3 linked regions of the Homo sapiens genome follow. The protein of the gene in region 1 purifies or fractionates together with the protein of each later gene. This does not show direct contact. Each region holds a gene or a part of one and is shown on either strand. Other genes may lie near its edges.

The links.
Region 2: the proteins of FAM114A1 (region 1) and OAS1 purify together in Homo sapiens (co-immunoprecipitation; one large-scale study listed by IntAct). This does not show direct contact.
Region 3: the proteins of FAM114A1 (region 1) and THUMPD3 fractionate together in Homo sapiens (co-fractionation; one large-scale study listed by BioGRID). This does not show direct contact.

Annotation. Positions count from the first base shown.
Region 1 is NC_000004.12:38,870,679-38,874,333, forward strand, and holds part of FAM114A1 (protein NOXP20), read left to right. Parts: intron 1-3,655. UniProt on the Homo sapiens protein: May play a role in neuronal cell development.
Region 2 is NC_000012.12:112,909,952-112,913,606, reverse strand, and holds part of OAS1 (2'-5'-oligoadenylate synthase 1), read right to left. Parts: intron 2,557-3,655; coding exon 2,372-2,556; coding exon of another isoform or gene 2,349-2,371; intron 1-2,348.
Region 3 is NC_000003.12:9,380,017-9,383,671, reverse strand, and holds part of THUMPD3 (tRNA (guanine(6)-N(2))-methyltransferase THUMP3), read right to left. Parts: intron 3,170-3,655; coding exon 3,054-3,169; intron 474-3,053; coding exon 363-473; intron 1-362. UniProt on the Homo sapiens protein: Catalytic subunit of the THUMPD3-TRM112 methyltransferase complex, that specifically mediates the S-adenosyl-L-methionine-dependent N(2)-methylation of guanosine nucleotide at position 6 (m2G6) in tRNAs.

The sequences.
Region 1 (3,655 bases):
CAGTGATCAGTGTTCCTAACCATAAATCAGGAAAGGTTTCTAAGTCTGGCTTATGGAACACCCAGACGGAGATGGAAACCGTCCCAGGAAACACAGTGCTTGTCATGACTGTAATCCTGGTGGACTCCAGCAGCCCCTGCTCAGAAACAGTTCTGTATTTCAAACACACAGTTTCTAGTGGTTTCATACAAAAGGGTATAGTCTGAAAAATGATTACATTTCCCCCATCATGATAGCATCCACAGTCGATAAAGTTCTACCAGAACAACCAAACAAAAAATAATTTTTTTTCGTTTTGATTTGGGGAAAATTAGACCTGTAACAAGTAGAGATAAATATGGATTAGAGATACACACAATTAGAAATTGAATTAGAGCTGATCTTGCATGGCTTTCTTTTTTTTCTTTCTTTTTTTTTTTTTTTTTTTTTGCGACAGGGTCTCACACTGTCACCCAGGCTGGAGTGCAGTGGCATGATCCTGGCTCACTGTAGCCTCTGCCTTCCAGGTTCAAGCAATTCTCATGCCTCAGCCTCCAGAGTAGCTGGGATTACAGGCACATGCCACCATGCCCAGCTAATTTTTTTGTATTTTTAGTAGAGACAGGATTTCACTCTGCTGGGCAGGCTGGTCTGGAACTCCTGGCCTCAAGTGATCTGTCTGCCTTGGCCTCCCAAAGTGCTGGGATGTGAGCCACTATGCCTGACCGATGACCATTTTTAAATTTAACAGATGTAAAGATCTAGTATTAATAAAATTTATAAATTATCCATAAATATTTTAAACAATAATCTATAAATATTTTAAATAATAATCCATAAATATTTTTTGACAATAGTCCATAAATATGTTTTAACAATGCCTGTTTAACATCTTACAGCTGAGTTTCTGGGGTATTTCTGAAGGGATGGTTTGTGTTGGTTGAATGCAGAACAGCCACAGAGAGGAGTTTTACTGCAGTACTTTTTCTACATTTGGGATAAACTGACCTAAGGTAATTTGGCCATCAGAGATAGGTAAGGGCTCTAGGTTTCCTCCTCTGCAACTTCCCTACCAAGAGTTAAATTACCATGAATCCAAGTTCACTGATGGAATTCTGCCATAAACCCACACATGTATTAGCAAACAGGCTTAGTTAACCAGTCTGTTCTTATAAGCTCAAGGAAGTCCTAGCTCACTGTCCTTTTAGGCCTGTGTTCTAGAGGCAGGACTCAACTAAGCTTCTAGTCACCTTCAGGCTTTGGAGTCCTGCATTCAGCTAGAGAACCTAGAAGAACGCTACTCCAAAGGGTAAGTCAGCTGCTGGATTCAGTGCAATCTCATGTCTTGGGTATAGAAGCAGAGAAGGCACCTGTACGTTATTTCTTGTCGATCCACATACCTGAGGCATCTTTCATGTCACCAGTGAAAAATTATTTCTCATATCCCTTATGCTAATTAGCATACCCTGGAGTGCCCATCAGAGAAGACGGTAGATGAACCCTCTAAAAAGAGGTGGTCACCTCATTACGGATTTTTAAGTGCTTACTAAAGACCCCTGGATAGTATATTCCTGAATAAGGCACTTCAAATGTCATCCAGCCACCCTTAGGGCACAAATTAAAACTAAGTAACATGCACGTGTCACATAGTATATGCTGAACTATTTTAGGATACTTCATGAACAAGATAACAACACATGAGGGCAAGGCTTGTACATTTAGGCATCCATAATGGTTTTTATTTACCCATAAGTGTTTATCACAGCCAGATTTACTCTGATGTTCCTGCTTATAGAAAACTGAAATATTTTGGGACTTCCTAATAATCCAGATTAATAATAAGGATTTTCAAATTACCTTACAAAGAAATAAAAATATCAGACAATGTCTACCATCTACCGATTTAAAAAAATGAGAATAAAAGTGATGGCAAGGTATCATTTATTCATGAACCCATTCTCCTCATTGTTGTGTCCATACGACTCATGTGAGGATAATAAATTAAGACAGGGAAATCTTTAGGCCATGGCAATCAAGCAAAGTCCTAGGCCATGGGTAAGCAGACATTTTCGGAAACCGGCCAGATAGTAAATATTTTAGGCTTTGTGACTTTGCAGCCCATATGGCCTGTGTTGCAATGACTCAGCTCCGCTATTGTAGTGCCAGAGAAACCATGACGGTCCCATATGTAAACAAAGGGTGTATCTCTGGTCCAATAAAACTGTGTTTACCAAAACAGGCAGAGGACAAGAGTTGGCCAGCAGACTGGTTTGCCAACACCCTGTCCTAGGCTAGTCCTGATTCAGAGAGAGGTTTTCACAAAGATTTTGTAAACTTCCAAATGACAACAGCCTTTTTAGCAGCCCCCATCAATTCTACTCACCTCCCATAAACCACCCACAATACTACCCCTTCTCTATACAGTGGGTTTCTATCGTTCTTTACTATTTCAGCTAGGCTTGAACCTGGCTCCTTGACAGCCCACGGCCAACCTTGAATATCCTAAACTTTGTATACCAGCTCAAGGGAAGTCTGCATTCGTTGCCATTCTTACATGTAGACTTGTTTACAGGAATATTATCACTGAATTCAAGGTCTGGCAGATATTTTTGCTTACACAAATACATTCTAACTCAATTAACTGGGAGGTGAAGGAAAAAAGAAAGACAATACGGAAATGTCAAGTCATTTGGAACCATCTGCTGTAAGAGAGCTCCTGAGTGTCTGTACACAAATATTAATCTAACTCAACAGGCATATTTGTTGAGCTTCCTACTATGCACAGGAAGCCATGCCAAGTACTATGTAGAATATGAATACAAAACAAGGAAGGTCTTTGTCTTTATAGAATTTACAAATCATAGGAAAAACTGAAGCAACTCTAATCAAAGAGGACTTTAACTGTCTAAAGTAAGATAAACACAAAATGCCCTCAGAAGGGTTCAGAAGGAAAATGTTCAACCTGGAGGAACAAAGAATGGAGGAGGCGGTTATTTTAACTGGGTCTTCAATGTGCAAAAGAACAACATATGGAACTAACAGCCCCCGAGGGTCTCTTGTGGATGTGCCAGGCATTGCACAGATATTTACACTGTCTCATTTAAGGTTTTATAGGAAATCGTGGGAGGTAAGCCTGGTGGGATCAGAGCACAGAGGTCCCTGGATACTAGCTGAAGCATGTGGCCTCATCTCAGGAGGGAGAGGAAGGGGAAGCTCCTGAGGATGTGTGAGCAGGAGAGCCATGTAATTAGAGCCGTGAGGTGAAGGATGGGAAGTAAGGGGAAGAGCTGCAGTGAACAGGGGAACCCAATACTGAAATAGTCATCATGAACCATAATGAGGACCTTGCCATGAGAATAGGAGTAAAAGAATGTAGATAGATTCTCAATAAAGAGCCTCTAGGATTTGGCCACTGACTGAATGTAAGAAAAGAGGCAGATGGCATTGCTGATAGGGCTCTGATGTGGTTCAGTCTCAAAGTCAGACACGGGTTCAAATTTCAAATGTAGAATTTACTAAAAGTGTGACTTCTGAGCTTCAGTTTCCTCGTCTGTAAAATGGAGCTGATAACATTCAACTCACAGGAGATAATACATTTAAAGAGCATGGATACAGTAAGCACTCAATAAATGATAGCTGTTGATACTATATATTCTTGAGAGGGTGAAAGCGTGGT
Region 2 (3,655 bases), on another chromosome or scaffold:
ATTAGTTAATTGGAAGGTAGATTAGAAGGAACTATTCAGAATAAAGCATGGAAAAATAGACAAAAGGATGAAAAACACAGAAGAGAGTATAGAGATATGAAAGATAGAGCAGGGTCTAACATACATTTAATTGGAATTCTAGAAGGTGAGGAGAGAATGAAGGAGAATCAATATTTTAGAAGAATGGCTGAGAAGTTTCAAAACTGATTAAAGATATCTACCCACAGATTCAGGAATCTTAACGGAATCCCAATCAGGACAAACAATAGGAACCCATCATTAAGACACAGCAGATTGAAGCTAAACAAAATCAAAGACAAAGAGAAAACTTTTACATGCAGCCAGAAGAATAAGACAGGTTACTTATAAAAGAGCTGCAGTTAGACTGGCAACTGACTTTTTAATGATGACACTGGAAGATGGAATGATATATTCAATATACTGAAATGACCACCCAGCAAAAGCACCCTTCAACAATGAAGGCAAAAGCATGACATTTTCAGACAAACAATAACTGAGAGAGTTTACTACCAATAGACCATCATCAAAAGAAATCCCAAAGGATGCATGATCATTTAGGAAAATTACCCCAGATGGAATGTTAGAGGTGTAAGACAGAATGAATAGTGAAGAAAGTGGTAAATCTGTGAGCAGATTAACTAAACATTTGGCTATAAAACAATAATACTTCGAGGCACTTGAAAATATAAACAGACTTGAAATATACAAGAAATGTAGCATATAAGTTGGAGGTGGTGATGATGGTGGTTAGTGGAGTTAAATTATTGTTAATCTTGTCTTGTTTTAAAGGAGAACAGCATCAAGAAAGAAAGAAAAAGACAATTCTTGGCTGTGCAGGACTCTCTTGATCATTGTACAATAACTAGCATTCTTGTCTTCTTTCCACTAAATATAAGTAGCACCCATGTCCTCCCATCACCATGGTTACCAAAAACACCCTCATTAATTTTCAATATGTCCCTGGGGGCAGTGCTGCTTTTGTCAGGAACTGCTTTTGTAAATTCTACAATGCTCAGGCTCCATGATTACAATTCATAGAACAGCAAACACTTAGAAGTCTGGCAACTAAATGATTGTCTTTTTTTTACCTAGAGGTGTTACTTTTAAATTGGAAAGTTTATTCCTGATTATTTTCATTCATTCGTTCATTCAAGAAATATACATTGAATGCCTATTATTATCAGGCAAACTCTTAAGTCAATAGACCCAAATTCGAGTTTTTGTTTGTTTGTTTGTTTGTTTGTTTGAGAGAAGATCTTGCTCTGTCTCACAGGCTGGAGGGCAGTAGTGCAATCCTGACTTACTGCAACCTCCTCCTCCCAGGCTCAAGCGATCCTCCCACCTCAGCCTACCCAGTAGCTGGGGCTACAGGTGCTCACCATCACACCTGGCTAAATTTTTAGTTTATTTTGTAGAGACGAGGTTTTGCCATGTTGCTCAGGCTAGTCTTGAACTCCTGGGCTCAAGCAATCTACCTGCCTTGGCTTCCCAAAGTGCTGGGATTACTGGTGTGAGCTACCGCGCCCAGCCAAATTCAAATTTTACTTCTGCTACTTATTGGCCGAATGAGCCATGTGACCCAGGAGTTTCTCTTTTTGACCCAAGTTTCTCTTGGTGTAAAATGGATTTAATAATAATGCCTAACCTTATCTAACTTACAGAATCACTGTTAAAATTGACTAAGATGCAGGGCATTTAAAAGTGAACAGAAAATTGTATCACATCCACAAAACATAGATAAGCTAAGCACATACTACATGTTAGCTTTTATTATGTGTACTCCTATGGTGGCTAAAATATGCTACATTTATCAGGACCAACTATATGCCGTGTTACTCTAGCTATGGCATGCTACTCGTTGCAGATAAGAAAGCAGAAAGAACAGAAAGGTTAAGTTGCTTACTTAAGGCCAGCCAGCCAGTAAGTGGGAGGAAAGGGCATCTGAACATATATTTGTTTGAAACTCTTGTTTTAACTTATCCACCTTCTGAAGAGTGTGGTTGACTCTCTCTCTGTGTGTGTGTGCGTGCGTGTGTGTATGTAGCATTGATTCATTTATTCAACAGTTATTTACACCTATTATGCACCAGGCTCTGTTTTAAGTTCTGGGGATACAGCAGTGAACAGAACACCAAAATCCCTTCCTTTCTCTCTTCCTTCCCTTTCATTCTCCCTTCTGTTGCAGGCTCCTCTCTCCACCTCTTTTTCCTTTCTCTCCTTTTTCCATCCCTCTATTTCCCTCCACCACTCCCCCTCCTCTTCCCTTCACTCCCTTCTTTCTCTCCTCCCCCCACCCCTCCTCTGCTCCCAGTCGAGACAGGACCCACCAGGCCTGGTGGGAGGGCCATACATTTTGGTACCAGTGCTTGACTAGGCGGATGAGGCTCTTGAGCTTGGTGGGGCGCTGCTTCAGGAAGTCTCTCTGTAGTTCTGTGAAGCAGGTGGAGAACTCGCCCTCTTTCTGCAGGTCGGTGCACTCCTCGATGAGCTTGACATAGATTTGGGGGTTAGGTTTATAGCCGCCAGTCAACTGACCTGTTCGGGCAAAATCTACAACTTAGGTGTCAGCTCTTCTCTGAATTTCCTTCAGTCACTCTGAGGGGACAATCTCCCTGGCCATGGGGTTTGATTGAAAAGTGCAGCAGACCCAGGGCTGGGAAGTCTTGAGGTCCATTCCTGATCCTCCCTCCTGCCCTCTCCACTGCCATCACCCCATCCAAGCCACCACCGTCACTCGCCGGAACTATGGCAGCAACCTCTTTACAGGTTCCCCCACAGCCTGTTCTCAACCTGGCACCTAGAGAATGCTGCTGATCATGCTGCTTCCTGCATCCCATAACATCTGGAATTTTAAAACCCAAAGATCTTATGGTGGCCAATGATGTCTGGTGTGATCTGGTCTCTGGAACCTCTCCCACCTCACCTCCTGTCTTGCTTCCTTTGCCCACTTTCTACTTCTCTGACTTTTTCTCTCTTCCTCAAATGTGCCATGGTCATTGCTGCTTCAGGGCCTCTGCACTTGCCATTCCTCTTCCCAGAACCTCCAGATCTCCCCAAGGCTCACTCCTTCTCGCCACTCAGGCTCAGGGACCCTCCCTCACGACCCTGTCTAAAAAAGCTCCCTAACCCCCATGGCTATCTATTGTTTCACCCTACTTAGTTTTCTTTTCTTTTCTTTTTTAATCACTCCTTATATTCTTTTCTTTTTTCTTTTTTTCGAGATGGAGTCTCACTCTGTTGCCCAGGCTGGAGTGCAATGGCATGATCTTGGCTCATTGCAACCTCCATCTCCTGGGTTCAAGCAATTCTCCTGCCTCAGCCTCCCGAGTAGCTGTGATTACAGGCACACACCACCACGCCCAGCTAATTTTTGTATTTTTAGTAGATGTGAGATTTCACCATGTTGGCCAGGCTGGTCTTGAATTCCTGACTTCAAGTGATCCCCCCACTTTGGCCTCCCAAAGTGCTGAGATTACAGGCGTGAGCCACTGTGACCAGCCTTCTCCCTCTTGTCTTTTACAACCATTGTACTTCAGCCCCCAACACAGGAGATGGCACAAAGGAGAGAATCCAAAACTTTCTCATACCCTGGTGTCTTTGGAGAGTCAGCATTTTTTTTTTCATGGCTGCCCTA
Region 3 (3,655 bases), on another chromosome or scaffold:
AGCCTGGGCAACAGAGCAGGGCTCTGTCTCCAAAAAAAAAAAAAGAATCATTTATGCTGAGAAACAGAATGAGAACCAAGTCTTCTACCACCTTTTTGTGTAGGATATATAATTCAAGAATGGGCTAGAAAGTGAATTACAGGTAATTTAAAAATGAACCTCCCATGATGGTCAGGATTCCAAATGTAGTTAATACATTCCTGAGTTCTCGGAAGAAACATAATGGGTGAATCCATCATGTTGTTAAGTGAAAAACAGCTCTGCTAAGTCTGCTAAAATTCAAGATTTTTTTCCTGACTTAGAATAAACGCAAGGAAAATAATGACATATTTAGAAGACAAGCAGGTACTAGTATTTCTCACCTTTTTCCAAATGGCAAATCTGTTACAATAATATCCACAGAGCCAGTTCTCAATGGCAGATTGCAGATATCCCACTGAACAGCATCTATGGGCAAGCCCCAGGAGGGTTTGCTGTGGGGACAAAGGAAAGGTGCTTCAACATACTGTGAAGCATAAAGTTATTACAACAATTTTTGTTTCTGAAGAGAGACTGCTACAGCAAAACATAAACTGCTAAGGATATCAGTGATAATATCAACCTATTCAAAATTTAAGAAATGGCACAAAGGTAAAAAATAGGTCAGGCTGGGCATGGTAGCTTGTGCCTATAATCAGCACTTTCAGGGGCTGAGGTGGGAGGATCACTGGACTCCAGGAATTTGAGACCAGCTGAGCAACACTGTGAGACCTTGTCTCTAAAATACTTTTTTAAGAAGTTAGCAGGGCATGATGGCACACACCTATAGTCCCAGCTACTCAGGAGGCTGAGGTGGGAGGATCACTTGAGTCCAGGAGTTGAAAGATGCAGTGAGCTAGGATTGTGCCGCTTTACTCCAGCCTGGGTGACAGAGCAAGACCCCCGTCTCAGAAAAAAGGGAAACAAACTGAAAACATGATTGTAATGCAGAGAACTGCAAAAGACAACTTTAAAAACAATGCTGAAGCAGTAAATTACATAACCGATGATACAAAAATTTAAGTTGCTGATAAAACATACACTGGAGAAAAACAATACTAAAGAATAGATAATGGGGTGATGTATCTGAAGAATAAAGTTTGTAAAACTAGTAATAACAGGAGGCCTAAAAGAAAAACAGATAGTAAAATTGGCAAATATATAGGTAATTGTTTCAAGATGAAAAACCAAAAGGAAAATATGTGCCATGCTATATAAAACAAGACTAAGAAAAAAGTTAAGATAAAAAATATAGATGACAGAAGACAGAATGAATAATAATAAATACAAAGGATTTAAATCCTCCTCATTAAGGCAAAGCAACTGGTTTAAGAAACAAAATAATGCACAGGCTAAGAACTGAAGATAAGTCAAAGGTTATCAGCAGAAATTAAGGATTTAATTGACATTTAATGAAGAATTTAAGAAAAAAATGCAATAAAAGCAATCATTACATAATTTTTAAAAGTACACATAAAATATGTATTATAACCGCATACCAATAACTGCACAAAACAAAAGGCAAAAAATATTAAAAACCAAAGTAAAATGGATAGAAATGTACAGGTTGAGGCCGGGCACAGTGGCTCATGCCTGTAATCCCAGCACTTTGGGAGGCCAAGGTGGGCAGATCATGAGGTCAGGAGATTGAGACCATCCTGGCTAACATGGTGAAAACCCGTCTCTACTAAAAATACAAAAAAAAAATAAGCCGGGCATGGTGGCGGGTGCCTGTAGTCCCAGCTACTTGGGAGGCTGAGGCAGGAGAATGGCGTGAACCCGGGAGGCGGAGCTTGCAGTGAGCCGAGATCAAGCCACTGCACTCCAGCCTGGGCGACAGAGTGAGACTCCGTCTCAAAAAAAAAAAAAAAAAAAAAAAAAAAAAAAAAAAAAAAAAGTACGGGTTGAACAGACAGTGTAGGTACAAACAAGATAAAATATTCAGAAGCTAGAAAGGTACGTTTGTTTAAATGTTTATCAGTTTTAATTAAAAAAAAAAAAGACTGGCCATATACTAGGCTCATTAAAAAAAACCCTCAATAAATATGAAACAACCATTCAAAATTAATTCATCACAATAAATCAGTATTTAAGAAAATTGAAGCCTTCCAACTACTTGTCTTAATACACGTAAAAGGATTTAATGTTGATACATAGACCAGCAGCATCAGCATTGTCCTGGAGTTTCCTGGAAAATGCAGACTCTTAGGTCCCATCCCAAACTACTAAATCAGATCTGTGTTAACAGTACTCCTAGGTGATTCACATGTACATTAATGTTTGAGAAGCACTGTCCTAAAAAATTAGATCAGAGAGACAATGAAATATATAACCAATGACTTAGTAATAAAATAGAGGCGAGGCTATATAAACTGCAGTATTTCTATACGATGGAATTTATGTAGTGACTTTAAAGACTATGGTCCAGGTGTGGTGACTCGTCTCTAATCCCAGCAATTTGGAAGGCTGAAGCGGCAGAATCTCTTGAGGCCAGGAGTTTGACACCAGCCTGGACAAAACAGCAAGACCCCCATCTCTACGAAGATTTTAAAAAATTAGCTGGGCATGGTGGCACATGCCTGTATTCCTAGCTACTAGGGAGGCCAAGGCAGGAGGATTGCTTGAGCTCAGTAGGTTGAGGCTACAGTGAGCCATGATCATGTCACTGCACTCCAGCCTGGGTGACAAAATGAGACCCTGTACCCAAAGCAAAAAAGAAGCCTATGTAAAAATATACTGTTTAAAATTTTGTGAAATTAAAATGAGTCTATAAAATATTCTTCCAATATGTAGGGGAAAAGACATATGAATAAGACAAATGAAAAATTGCATATGGTGGGGAAATTATCGCTAAAATAATATTTTAAAAATATAACTTATTTTCAATAAACTTTAAAAATGTAAATGGAGTCTCATAGTATATTCATTTTGGTTACAATGACGTCACAATGCACTGGGAGTTTTAATTCATAAAGTCAATATAAAAAGTGATTCTCTAACTCTAAAAGATGCTAAGAAATCTTTTAAATTTTTACCCTTCTTTAATTTGGCTCTTGGTCAATAAAGATGCAATGTTATTTGCTGCTCTATTCACAGCCAGTGGATTATTATCACCAGCAATATGGAAACAGTCAGACCATTCAGTGGCCCCCTAAAAGATAAGAGTGTATGTTAAAACAAAAGTAGCAAACTGTAAAATATGATTAAATTGTCAACAAACAAAGAAAATCCAGTGCTTTTCTAGAGTGGCAAAACATTGCATGTTGTCAACTGTGCTATTTCCCTGGCTGAAAATGCCCTCTTATTCTTTCTCTGCTTGCTGAACCTCTACCCATCTCTTAAGACCCAGCTCAAACCTCATGCCCTTTCAACATCAACCTTAACTCTCCAAGCAGTCTTATGTGCCCCTCCCAAAAACACTTTGTATGTACGTACCTCTGCCACTGCACTTGTCCCACGGTTAATTATTTCTTCCCCTTTATGCCTCTCAACTAACCTGGGAGCTCTCTGAGGTCAGGTCTAGTATTTTATTCAGTTCCTCATCCAGCAGTGTCTGGCACACTAAATTCTAAGTTAATGCGGTTTGAAAATATTTGAGATTTGTGGTTGTGGGAGTTTACATAATCTGATATATTTG